2 separate regions of the Homo sapiens genome follow, and region 1 is linked to region 2. Evidence: fine-mapped expression QTL. A gene starts in region 2. The other region holds a variant in brackets. All regions are shown on one strand. Distances are from middle to middle. Region 1 holds the start of LOC124903726 (a long non-coding RNA gene). Region 2 holds the start of MON1B (MON1 vesicular trafficking associated B).

What was found.
Region 1: its variant is fine-mapped to the expression of MON1B in tibial nerve (GTEx, PIP above 0.99). The same link has a PIP of 0.9 or more in left ventricle, lung and skeletal muscle.

What each region holds. Positions count from the first base shown.
Region 1 is chr16:77,209,428-77,214,798 of GRCh38, forward strand. SYCE1L (synaptonemal complex central element protein 1 like) reads left to right here. Exons shown (of 11, transcript NM_001129979.3): 6 at 1-44; 7 at 1,786-1,849; 8 at 2,703-2,772; 9 at 2,855-2,942; 10 at 3,147-3,219; 11 at 3,430-3,788. The coding sequence ends at 3,504. LOC124903726 (a long non-coding RNA gene) reads right to left here and starts at 2,704. Exons shown (of 2, transcript XR_007065121.1): 1 at 2,602-2,704; 2 at 2,160-2,504. RefSeq lists silencers at 2,704-3,063, 3,124-3,453, 3,564-3,653, 3,684-3,733 and an enhancer at 2,811-3,784. The variant G/A (reference allele first, on the strand shown) is at 2,647.
Region 2 is chr16:77,188,490-77,193,860 of GRCh38, forward strand. It overlaps MON1B (MON1 vesicular trafficking associated B), which reads left to right and starts at 2,701. Exons shown (of 6, transcript NM_014940.4): 1 at 2,701-2,769; 2 at 2,987-3,144; 3 at 4,962-5,288. The coding sequence starts at 2,997. LOC124903725 reads right to left here and starts at 2,077. Exons shown (of 1, transcript XM_047435021.1): 1 at 1,419-2,077. The coding sequence starts at 2,077. The coding sequence ends at 1,733. RefSeq lists enhancers at 2,419-3,367, 2,493-2,782, 2,803-2,852.

The sequences.
Region 1 (5,371 bases), 21 kb after region 2:
ATCCTCCAGATGCACTGCCAAGAGAAGGAAAGCGAGGCTCAGAGGTAAGAGGCCCTGCCTCAGCTCTTCCCTACCTCATTCCCCAGCTGAAAAAGGAGGGAGCAAGAGCTGTGGAAATGAATCTTGGACACAGAAGCCTCATTTTACCTTTCTATAAAATAGAGCAGCCTGACAAAAGATTTCCTTGGTTATCTCTGATATTAAATGGTCGTGTTAAGATTAATTTACTCATTTAATTATTCGTTACTAATTTCTTTATCAAATATATTCCCTCCATTGGTCTTAGCCTCAGTCTTTTTCTGTTGGCTATCCAGCTCCTTTGATATCCATTCACTTGCTTATTTGCCTCCTTATTTTAAGCCCCAGTCATCCATTTGCCCACCCATTCATCTATCCACCCATCTAGCCATTCACCTACTCACTCATTCATCCATTCATCCATCTATCCAACCATGTCATCCAGCCAGATGGCTGTTTTATCTCCGGCCTTCCACCTAACAATCTTCCATCCATCCAATCATGCATTCATCCTCTCTTTATTCTTTCCATCATATATTCACTTAGCCAAACATCCATCCAGACATCTACCCTTCCTTTTAGCAATCCTTTCTTTCTCTGTCCAGCCACTATTCCTCTACTCATCATTTCTCCAATCAGCTATCATTTCTCCAGCCAGCAACTCACACATCCAGTCAACTGTCTATCCAACCTGTATCCATCCATCTCTTCATCCTCCCGAGTAGCTGAGATTACAGGCATGTGCCACCATGCCCGGCTAATTTTGTGTTTTTAGTAGAGATGGGGTTTCTCCATGTTGGTCAGGCTGGTCTCGAACTCTCGACCTTAGGTGATCCTGCCCACCTTGGCCTCCCAAAGTGCTGGGATTACAGGCGTGAGCTACCACACCCGACATCTTCTGAACTTTTACCTAGCACACTCCTGTTACCAGAGGTCTCTCATCCTGGTGCACCATGATTTTAATTGCATGGGGAAACCTGATGTTAGCTAATGTGTGATACTCAACCACACTACTCACACTGTATGATGAGCATTTATGCTCATTTATGTACCTAATCCTCACAATGATAATTATAGGAGTTAAGGCTAATGTCACCCTCCCATCACTACCACCATTTTACATATTAGGAAACTGAGACCCAGAGAGGTTAAGTAACTTGGCCAGGGTCTCGGTGAAGTAACAGATTAGGGTTCAAGCCAGGATGTTATAGAATCTGTGGTGCCAAATTACCACACGCCTCACAAAGCTTTCTTGGGAAGGCAGAGTTCATTCCATGGGGGACAGGATGGACAGGGTAATGTTCTCAACAGAGGCCCATGAAGGTTCTCATTCAACAGGAGAAACAAGAAAGGTGAATGCTGTGAACAGACATCCCAACTCCCACTCCTGCTGGAGTGAATGATGGGTCATTCAGAGAATATGACTGAGGGTTGTCTTTCCCTTCCCAGGAAGCACATGCTGCAAGAGTGCATGGAACAAATTTTTGCCCATAATTCTCAGGTTTCAGAGTCTCAAACAGAGGAATCTGGGGTAACTCCCAAGCCTGGGGCCTGGCAGGCCACTGTGTAGAAAGTGGGAACAGGGCTTGCATCAGGGAGAGTTTGTTGGAAGAGGTGCTACGGGAACCAAAGCTTAGAGGATAAAACCCATGAAGGGGCTCCCAGCAGAGGGAGCATGGGCAGGATCTGAAGGCCTGTGCATGAGGAGCCCCCAACAGGGTGTCAGGCCTAGCATGTGTTCTCTTATTCCTGGGTGTCGGCCTCCAGGTTGGATGTCAGAGGACAGCTGGAGGATCTGATGGGCCAGCACAAGGACCTCTGGGAATTCCACGTGAGCCATTATCATTGCCTGCAACCAAAGCCACTCCTCCCTGGCTTTAGTGTCGCACTGACTGGCCCAGAGTCCACCCCTGCCCAGGCTCAATGCCGCGGGATAGTCCTTGATTCCTTGCTTCCGCTTGCCCACCTATTCAGTCCCTCAGCTTTTATCTAAAATCAACTTACGCCTCACCATGCCCCACTGCCACACCCAGCATCACCTGCCCAGACGGGTGCAGTACCATTGTGATCCTGCTTTCCCCCTGCTCATCTAGTGTATGTTCACCTTGCAGTGGCAAATGGCAGCCCAGGGAAAGCCATGGTCAGGTCATTCCTTCATTTAGCTAATGTCAGTGGTTGCACCGGTCAGCATTTGAGGCAGGGAGGGAGGGTAGCAGATCAAAGAGTCCACGTCTTTGCTGTCCCAAGCTGGTTGGGGACGGTGGAGGCACCAAGAAAGTTAGTGGCTAGATCGTGGAACTTCAGTGGGAAGGCCTCTAAGCAAGTGACATCTCAACGCAGAGGTGAAGGAAGTGAGGGAAGAAGCCGTGCAGGTATCGGTGCAGAAGGAAGGCCCTGGGGCTGGACGGTGCCTGAAACCGTTGAGGAGCCGCAGATTGGGGAATGGAGGATGAGGAGAGTGGGAAGAGTTCAAGTTTGAGAGGTGCCTGGAGACATGGAGAGCGTTTAGGGGGAGGTGGGTGGGTCTCCAGCCACAGCAGGAACTGCACATTGAGTTAATAAATAGTTGAATGAATGAATGACCTAATGTAGGTGAAGACTTCGCGAGAAGCACAAAAGGGGAGGGGC[G/A]GGCCGTGTAGCCAAGAGGACGGCCAAACGGGGAGGCCTCCTCTTTGTCCTCGCAGATGCTGGAGCAGCGACTGGCCCGGGAGATCCGTGCCCTGGAGAGAAGCAAGGAGCAGCTGCTCTCGGAGAGTGAGCCTCCCGCGCCAGGTGGGCGGGGGGAGGGGGATGTGCCCGGGCCTCGGCCCTGCCCCTGACGCCCGCCCACCGACAGGGAGGCTGGTGCGCGCCAAGCTGCGGGAGGTGGAGCGGCGGCTGCACTCGCCGCCTGAGGTCGAGGGCGCCATGGCGGTGAATGACGGGTGAGAGGGGAAGGGAGGAGTGGGCGAGGAGGGCAGGGGCAGGGCGGAGGGGAACCCGCCCAGGTCCCCCGCTCCGCCCCCGACTGCCGCTTCCCCGGCCTGTGCCTCCCTCGGCGTCGTCGGGTCTCCGCGTCTCGGTGGCTTCCTCCTCGTCCCCTGGACTCTCGCTCTCTTCCTCCTGTCTCCTCGGCCCCTTCTCCGCAGGCTGAAGGCGGAGCTGGAGATATTCGGGGAGCAGGTCCGGAGCGCCCCCGAGGTCGGGGCCGGCGAGGGAGAGGTAGGGAGCCCGAGGAAGGGAGGCGGGGCGGGCAGGGACCGAGTCAGGAGAGAGCGGGCGGGGGTCCTGGGAGCGGCCCCCGAGAGTGGGGTCTGTGGGGAGCAGGGCGGCCCCGGGGACAGAGGAAGCCGCGGTGGAGGCCTAGGGCAGACGCGGGCGGACGCGAGGAGCGTAGGAACCTGGTCCGCAGCCTCACCCAGCCCCCGGCAGGCCGGACCTGAGCTCCCCCGCGCTCGCGACGAGGAGGATCCCGAGCCGCCGGTGGCTGCCCCTGACGCCCTCTAGGCCAGCAGGACCCGCCCGTTCCCGACCTTCCCTCGAGACCCGCCAAGAAATAAAGGCGATGATTTCCGACCATGCTCGCGTTCTCCGCGGAGTCTGTGCTACACCGTGGAGCGGGGCGGGGCGTGCTGGGATCTCGAGGCGGGGCCTCTGCCGGACCCCTCCCACCAGTCGAGCCCCGGGCGCCGTACAGAGGCTGGGTAAATGCTCCTGAACTCAGAGAGAGTAAGTGGGTGTCAGTATCCCCCGCCCCACGGCCTCATCTCGAGTTCCCAAACCATCTATGTTGTCAACAGGGGCCGGAGGGCAGGTGTTAACCCATTCCGGTCCTCGGGGCCTGTGCGTCTCCGGTGGTCTCAGGAAACCCAGAGTCTCTGCAAGACCCGCAGACTCGCGCTGGCTCTGGGACATGCCCGCCCATCTGAGCTCCCCTCACAAATTGGGTTCTAGCCAAGGCTGCCTCTCCACCCGTCTCAAACATTCCAAAACACGTGTCCCCTCGGGGCCTTCGCCCTACTGGTCCTTCTCTGGGGTCACATCCCCCAGGCAACCTCAGATCTGTTAAATGTGTCCGCCACTCTGGAGGCCGGCATTTGGGACCCAAATCCAAAGGCACCCAGCAGCAGGCTGCGGCCATTGACTGAGCATGTACTGACTAAGCAGGCATTTGCCGATTGCCTGCTGGGTACCAGGCACTGTTCTAAGCACTGGATTTTAAACAGCGCGGTCAGCGACGGCCTCACCTAGGAAGTGGTATCTGAGCGGAGAAGCGAGGTAGAGAAGCGAGGGGGTGAGCCCTGTGGGTGTCTGGGGAAAGGTGGGCCTGGCAGAAGACATGCCTCATGCCAAGGCGGGAGGTGAGGCTGCACTTCGCTGTGTTTGAGGAGACGTCTGGAGAAGGCCGGCGTGGTAGAGTGGAATGAGGTAGAGTGGGATGGGAGACGACACTGGAGAGTTGCCAAGGACCAGTCAAGTTGGACACTATCTAATGTGTGTAGAAGAGGACCTGGCACACAGTCAGTATTCAGTGAATGCCAGCTCTCACATATTGTTGGGATGATTCACTATTCCCAGTCCCTAGAGAATGGGAACTGAGATGTGTGACTCACTTAGATCAGAGGCTTCTGTCCATTAAGTGATCAGTAAGTGGTTCATATGATTTATTATTATTATTCCCAGGCTACAGATGAGGAACACTAAGGTGTGTATATCTCTCAGAACAGAGATTTTTATAACATAAATGCTCAATAAATGGTATCTATCATTTATTATTCTCACTGCTATTCTTGCTGTTATTCCCAATTTAGCGATGAGGAAAATTGAGATAGTGAATCTGTACAGTAAGCCCTCAATAAACGTTGGGTCTCACGTTTGTTGCCATTATTATCCCAAGTCCACAGATGAGGCCCAGGGAGCTTTAGTCCCCGAGTCACCACTCGCATCCGGGCAGAGCTGACTCCAGGCCCAGGCTGTGGTCCCCTGCCCCACTGACACCACCTACTTGCTAAGGCCAGTCTCCAGGAATCTCTAAGGAACTTCAGTATCCTCTTTGTCATCCTCTCTGTGTCACACAAATGGGGTCAGCCTGGATATTCTGCCGATTTACCACTGGGCACCTAGGATTCGAGTCCTGGTTTCCCTGTTCACCAGCTGGATGACCTCAGGCAAATTGCTTAATGTCTCTAAAACGCAGTGACCAGCTGGGTGCTGTGGCTCACGCCTGTAATCCCAGCACTCTGGGAGGCTGAGGCGGGTGGATCACGAGGTCAGGAGTTCAAGACCAGCCTTGCCAAGATGGTGACACCCCTTGGTTTGGTGGTGGCAGGTGTCTGGAATCCTAGCTACTCAGGAGGCTGTGGCAGAGAATTGC
Region 2 (5,371 bases):
GCTTTTCTGATTAAAAAAAAAAAAAGGCAGACACACCAGAGATGGCTCTATGTTCCTTCACTTGTTCCCATCTCTCATCTTTGATTGTAGAAATTGTTTAGAGTGGCAAATCATCAAACACGGAATGCTAATAAAGCTCCATAAACTTACGTCTGCAGTTTTGAAATCCAAAAAGCTCCAGAAAAATAATTTTTAAAAGCTCACTTGGAGGTAAAACCTGAACTAAACTAACATAAGACGGTTTAGTGTTTCTCTTACTGGGAGTAATAAAAAGTTTCACTCAGAAAAAATGAGTTTAGTTATCAGGTGTTTCCCAGTCCCTTGCTGGGCTCTATATAATACATGGCACATGCACCTAATTTCATTTCTAAAATCAGGAAAATGTGTGAATTTAAAACACATCTGGCACTAAGGGTTTCAGATAAGAGACTGTGTGACAATTGTTCTTAGTTCTGCCATTTTCCCTGGAAAACAATCTTTAAAGTTCACAGAGCACATCAGCAAGAATTTTTAAAAGGAGCCTAATTGTGATATGGTTTTGTTGAAATACAAGGCAGGTGTAAAAGGAAAATAAATCTCAGGACTCCAAAATTACTAAGCCAAAGGTAAAAGTCAAGCTGGGAACTGCATCAGGCAAACCTGCCTCCCAGTTTATCCCTAAATAAGATATTTACAAAGATAAAGCTACATACTTCCCTCATAATTTGCCCTCTAGGGATTCCTTGTGGGCTGCAAGATCTTTACCCTAAAACGGTTCTGTTGAATTTTACCCTGACAACGTAAATTGATAGTTTATCTTCACAGGTGCGAGACAAAGGAGCGAACCCCAAGTCATCCCTCTGCTCACCTGAAACAAATGCATATCTGATTGCTTCCTCTGAGGTAAAAATGCAGATTGACAAAGCTAGATGAAGGCGTAACTATTCCTCTACTCCCCTGATAAGGTTTGGATCTATGTTCCCACCGAAATCTGATGTCGAATGGTAATCCCCATTATTGAAGGTGGGGTCTGGTGGGAGTTGATCGGATCTTGGGGGTGAATCCTTCATGAATGGTTTAGCATCATCCTCTTGGTGACAGTGACTGAGGGAGTTATTGCGAGATCTGGTTGTTTAAAGTGTGTAGCCCTGGGCTGGGCATGATGGCTCACTCCTGTAATCCCAGCAATTTGGGAAGCTGAGGCGGGTGAATCACCTGAGGTCGGGAGTTCAAGACCAGCCTGGCCAACATGGCGAAACCCCATGTCTACTAAAAATACAAAAATTAGCCGGACGTGGTGGCGGGCACCTGTAATCCCAGCTACTCCAGAGGCTGAGGCAGGAGAATTGCTTGAACCCGGGAGACGGAGGCTGCAATGAGTCAATAACATTTTGCCATTGCACTCCAGCCTGGGTAACACAGCGAGATTAATAAATAAGTTTGCTTATGAGATGTTATTTTATTGTACTTTTTTACATGTTTATTATATATTATATACTTCTAAATGTATTAGGTAAATATATTTTGTATGCACATAAATTTATCCATTGTTTCTGTTATATAAATTTAATATTTATTACTTATCGATTACCTATTGTATATAAAGCACATGATGCTACACTGGTATTTGGAATTCATTACCCTAACTATACTGTAATTAAAATAATTATCCTAACTAGTACCAAAGGCTTCCCCTTAGCAATCACTCGAAGTGTGCCAGCACCTCCACTCACTTCACGTCAAGCGATTCCCATCATTGTTTCACTGATGGAGAAACCAAGGCCCAGGGCACTTGGGGCAAGGCGTTCAGGGGGCTTTCGGTCCGGAAGCAGCGTCGGGGCGGGAATTCGAACCCTGGGTTCCCACACTGGCCCGTGGCAGGGCCCCCAAGCCTTTTCCCAAACTGATCACAGAAAGTGACGACCCGTTCGCCCGGCGGACCGGGGGCGTCGGGCAGGTCCTGGTCCAAGTGAGTGCCCGCCCCTGCCCTGGGCTGGCAGAGTTCTTCCCCCAGCTGCAGGTAGACGTGGGAACCCGGCAGGGTACGGAGCTGCTGGCGCGGCACGCTGATTAGAAGCGGCGACTGCCCGTCAAGCATTCGCGCCTCTCCCCTCCCTTGACTTTCTTGGCAGGGTTAAGGGATAAGAGAAAGTGGAGTTGCCTCAGTTCTGGGAGAGCCCGTTTGTGGGTCCGGCACAGGTATCCATCGGGACTGACGCTGCAAAAGTCCTCTTGTGAAACAAGGAATAGGCTCGAGTCTTCGATTGGGTCGAGGGAGACGTCAATCAATGGATGGGCGTGTGCAAACGCAACACAACGCACAGTATTGGTTAGGATTTGGCGGGGGGAGTAGACAGCGGGGAAATGAGGCGGCTCATCTCGATTGGCCCAGAAAGAAGACGGTCGCGCCCTATGTACTCCGGGATTGGCTAGAGCGAGCCGCGTCCCCCCTCACGCCAACCACTGGTAAGCGAAGTGGGCCTCGCTCTCCCGGGTTAGCAGCCGTAGCCAGATCCGTTGAAAGGAGTGCAGAGAGGTCTCATTGCGCTCCCGAACAGACCTGACGTAGATCCGAAGTGGCCCGCGCCATCTCAACTATGAGGGGACACCCGTAGGCGGCGGGAGAGGGACGCCGCGAGGAGCCAATAAAGCTCCGCAACCGGAAGTGTCTTCTGGGAGGGGTCGTACCCGGAAGTGTGGCACCTCCCGGGCCGCACCCGGAAGTGTGATGCCACCGCCGCTACGGGGAAGTAATGGTATCCGGCCAATTGAGATTCGGAGTTAAAACAGGTGTTTGTATATCTCTATTTCCTGAGGCCCAGTAGAGTCTCCTCTTTTCGGAAAGTGTTGGAGGGGGGACGTATTTGGGCATGATTTTGGATGTCTCGTCCTATTGAAATCCGTGGGGAAATGAGCAGTAGGAGTGTGTCCAAGGGGGCCTGACTCTATAAAGGCTTTTCAGAAGTTTCTTTCACCGCCCGTCACCCTCGATTCCCCTCCCACTCAGGGATGTGCAGATGGAGGTCGGAGGAGACACTGCTGCCCCGGCCCCCGGGGGCGCGGAGGACTTGGAGGACACGCAGTTCCCCAGTGAGGAAGCTAGAGAAGGTGGAGGGGTTCACGCGGTCCCGCCGGATCCCGAAGACGAGGGCCTGGAGGAAACAGGTATGACTCCACTTAGTGGGGTCTTAAAAGGAATCCTTAGGGGTTGTCATTGTTGGACGGGGGAAGGGTCAGTGGGTGACCAGTAGGGAGTCTTGGGACTTAAGAGAAGTGGCTTAAACCATCGCCGGGTCAGGAGGAGGTCACTGTGGACACATGGTGTAGTTTACATCATTGAGGAAGTCATTGGCTGTCAACGGATGTTCACTGGGGGTTTGGTGTGAGTTTAGGTCATTGAGGAATCAAAAAGGGGGCTGTTAGGACCAAAGAGGGTCACTGAGGATTTAGAGTGTTTAGATCAAAGAATGCGCTGAAGAAAGTCAATAGACTCAACAGAGGAGGACTGTTGAGAAGTTAGTGTTTTTGAGGAGTAGGGTGTTATTTATTAAATAATAGAAGTGGGAAGGGGAATCAGTGGAGTTCGATGGGCACTCAGAGTATTTACATCATTGAAGTCACTTGTAGACTGTTGGGGAAGTCTTTAAGGGACCAAATGTTAGTGGATGTGTAAAGTTGTTCATTTGAGATTTAATGGAAGTCACTGAGAAGTCTGTGCCATTGATCACTTTGGAATTAGTGGATGTAAATGGAGTCATTGGGAAGGATCAGTGGACCTCACTGAGAATAAATGTGGATGGGGAGGTTGAGGACTTGGGAATTAATAGCAGGTAAGAGCAGTTATTAGGAGGGAGTAAAGATATTTGGGGACATGGGAGTGTCAGTGAATGTCAGTGACAGAATATGCAATTATTGGGATTTTATGGGAAAATTATTGAGACATAGTTGCACATGGATAATAATGGTTGTCATTGGGGGATGAATGGAAATCAATGGGAATAAATGGATGTGTCAGTAGGGGCTGTTGAAGTTGTGGGTTTTAGTGAATGTTAATGATGGTCATGGGTAGGGGCAATGGAAGTCATTAAAGTCTTGTGTGTTAGTGGATATTATGATGGTTACTGTAGGGAGGGGAGTGGATACCAATGAGATTGAAGGTGGTCAGGGGAGTGACTGAAGGTCTCTGAAGTGCTGGGTGTTAGTGGAGGTTAATGATGGTCATTGTTGGGGGTAGGGGGGAGTAGACATGGAGTAGAATAACTTGTGGATCAGGGCAGTCATGGAGGGTCATTGAAAAACCAGGTGTTAATGATTGTTAATGTGGGGTCATTGGGGTGTTTGTGAACCACAGTGGGAGTGAATAGTGGATTAGGGGAGTCCTAAATATCTGGGTGTTAGTGGATATTAACGACAGTCATTGGGAGAAATAGTGGACATTACCAAGAATATAAATGGGCAACCAGGAGAGTTAGTAGGGGTCATCAGGTATCAGTGGGCATCACTGATAGGGTAGTAGCGGGGGTTGGGGCATTCAAACAGTTAAGATATTAATAGATGTTAATGGTGGCCATTGGGTGAGCAGATATCAGGAGAAAAAATAGCGGTCAGAGGAGTTAATGGGGGATCATTGAAGATGAATAATCGTCATCCAGAGTCAATGGGGTGCTTTGAAGACTTTGGAATAACAGTGATTGAAAGGGAAGTAATTGGTCTGTAGGAACATAGCAAGTCCAGTGGAATAACAATGAGAATATGTTGGTTTATTAGGGTTTTAGGAAGTTCATTGGAACCTAAATGTTAGTGGAGATCATTGCGGGGTCCTAGGGCAGTCATCGGGTCATTGAGGGGCATAGGAGACACTTGGAGTTCTGCGTCAGCATGCAGGGGTCATGGAGGGGCTAGTAGATATTTGGTGGGTCCTTGGGGATGTGGGATTAGTTAGGAGTTCACATGCAGATGACCCACCAGGGGCTCCCTTTCAGGATCCAAGGACAAGGACCAGCCACCCAGCCCATCACCACCGCCCCAGTCAGAGGCCCTGTCAAGCACCTCTCGGCTCTGGAGTCCTGCAGCCCCTGAGAATAGTCCCACATGTAGCCCTGAGAGTAGCTCTGGAGGCCAGGGCGGGGACCCCAGTGATGAGGAGTGGCGCAGCCAGCGGAAGCATGTGTTTGTGCTGAGTGAGGCTGGCAAGCCCATCTACTCGCGGTATGGTAGTGTGGAGGCGCTGTCGGCTACCATGGGTGTAATGACCGCCCTGGTGTCCTTTGTGCAGAGTGCGGGAGATGCCATCCGTGCCATCTACGCTGGTGAGCAAACAGGTGGGAGGCAGAATGGGGGACAGTGACTGGGAATATGGCTGGCACGGGTAGGTCTGTCTGCCTCAGGCACT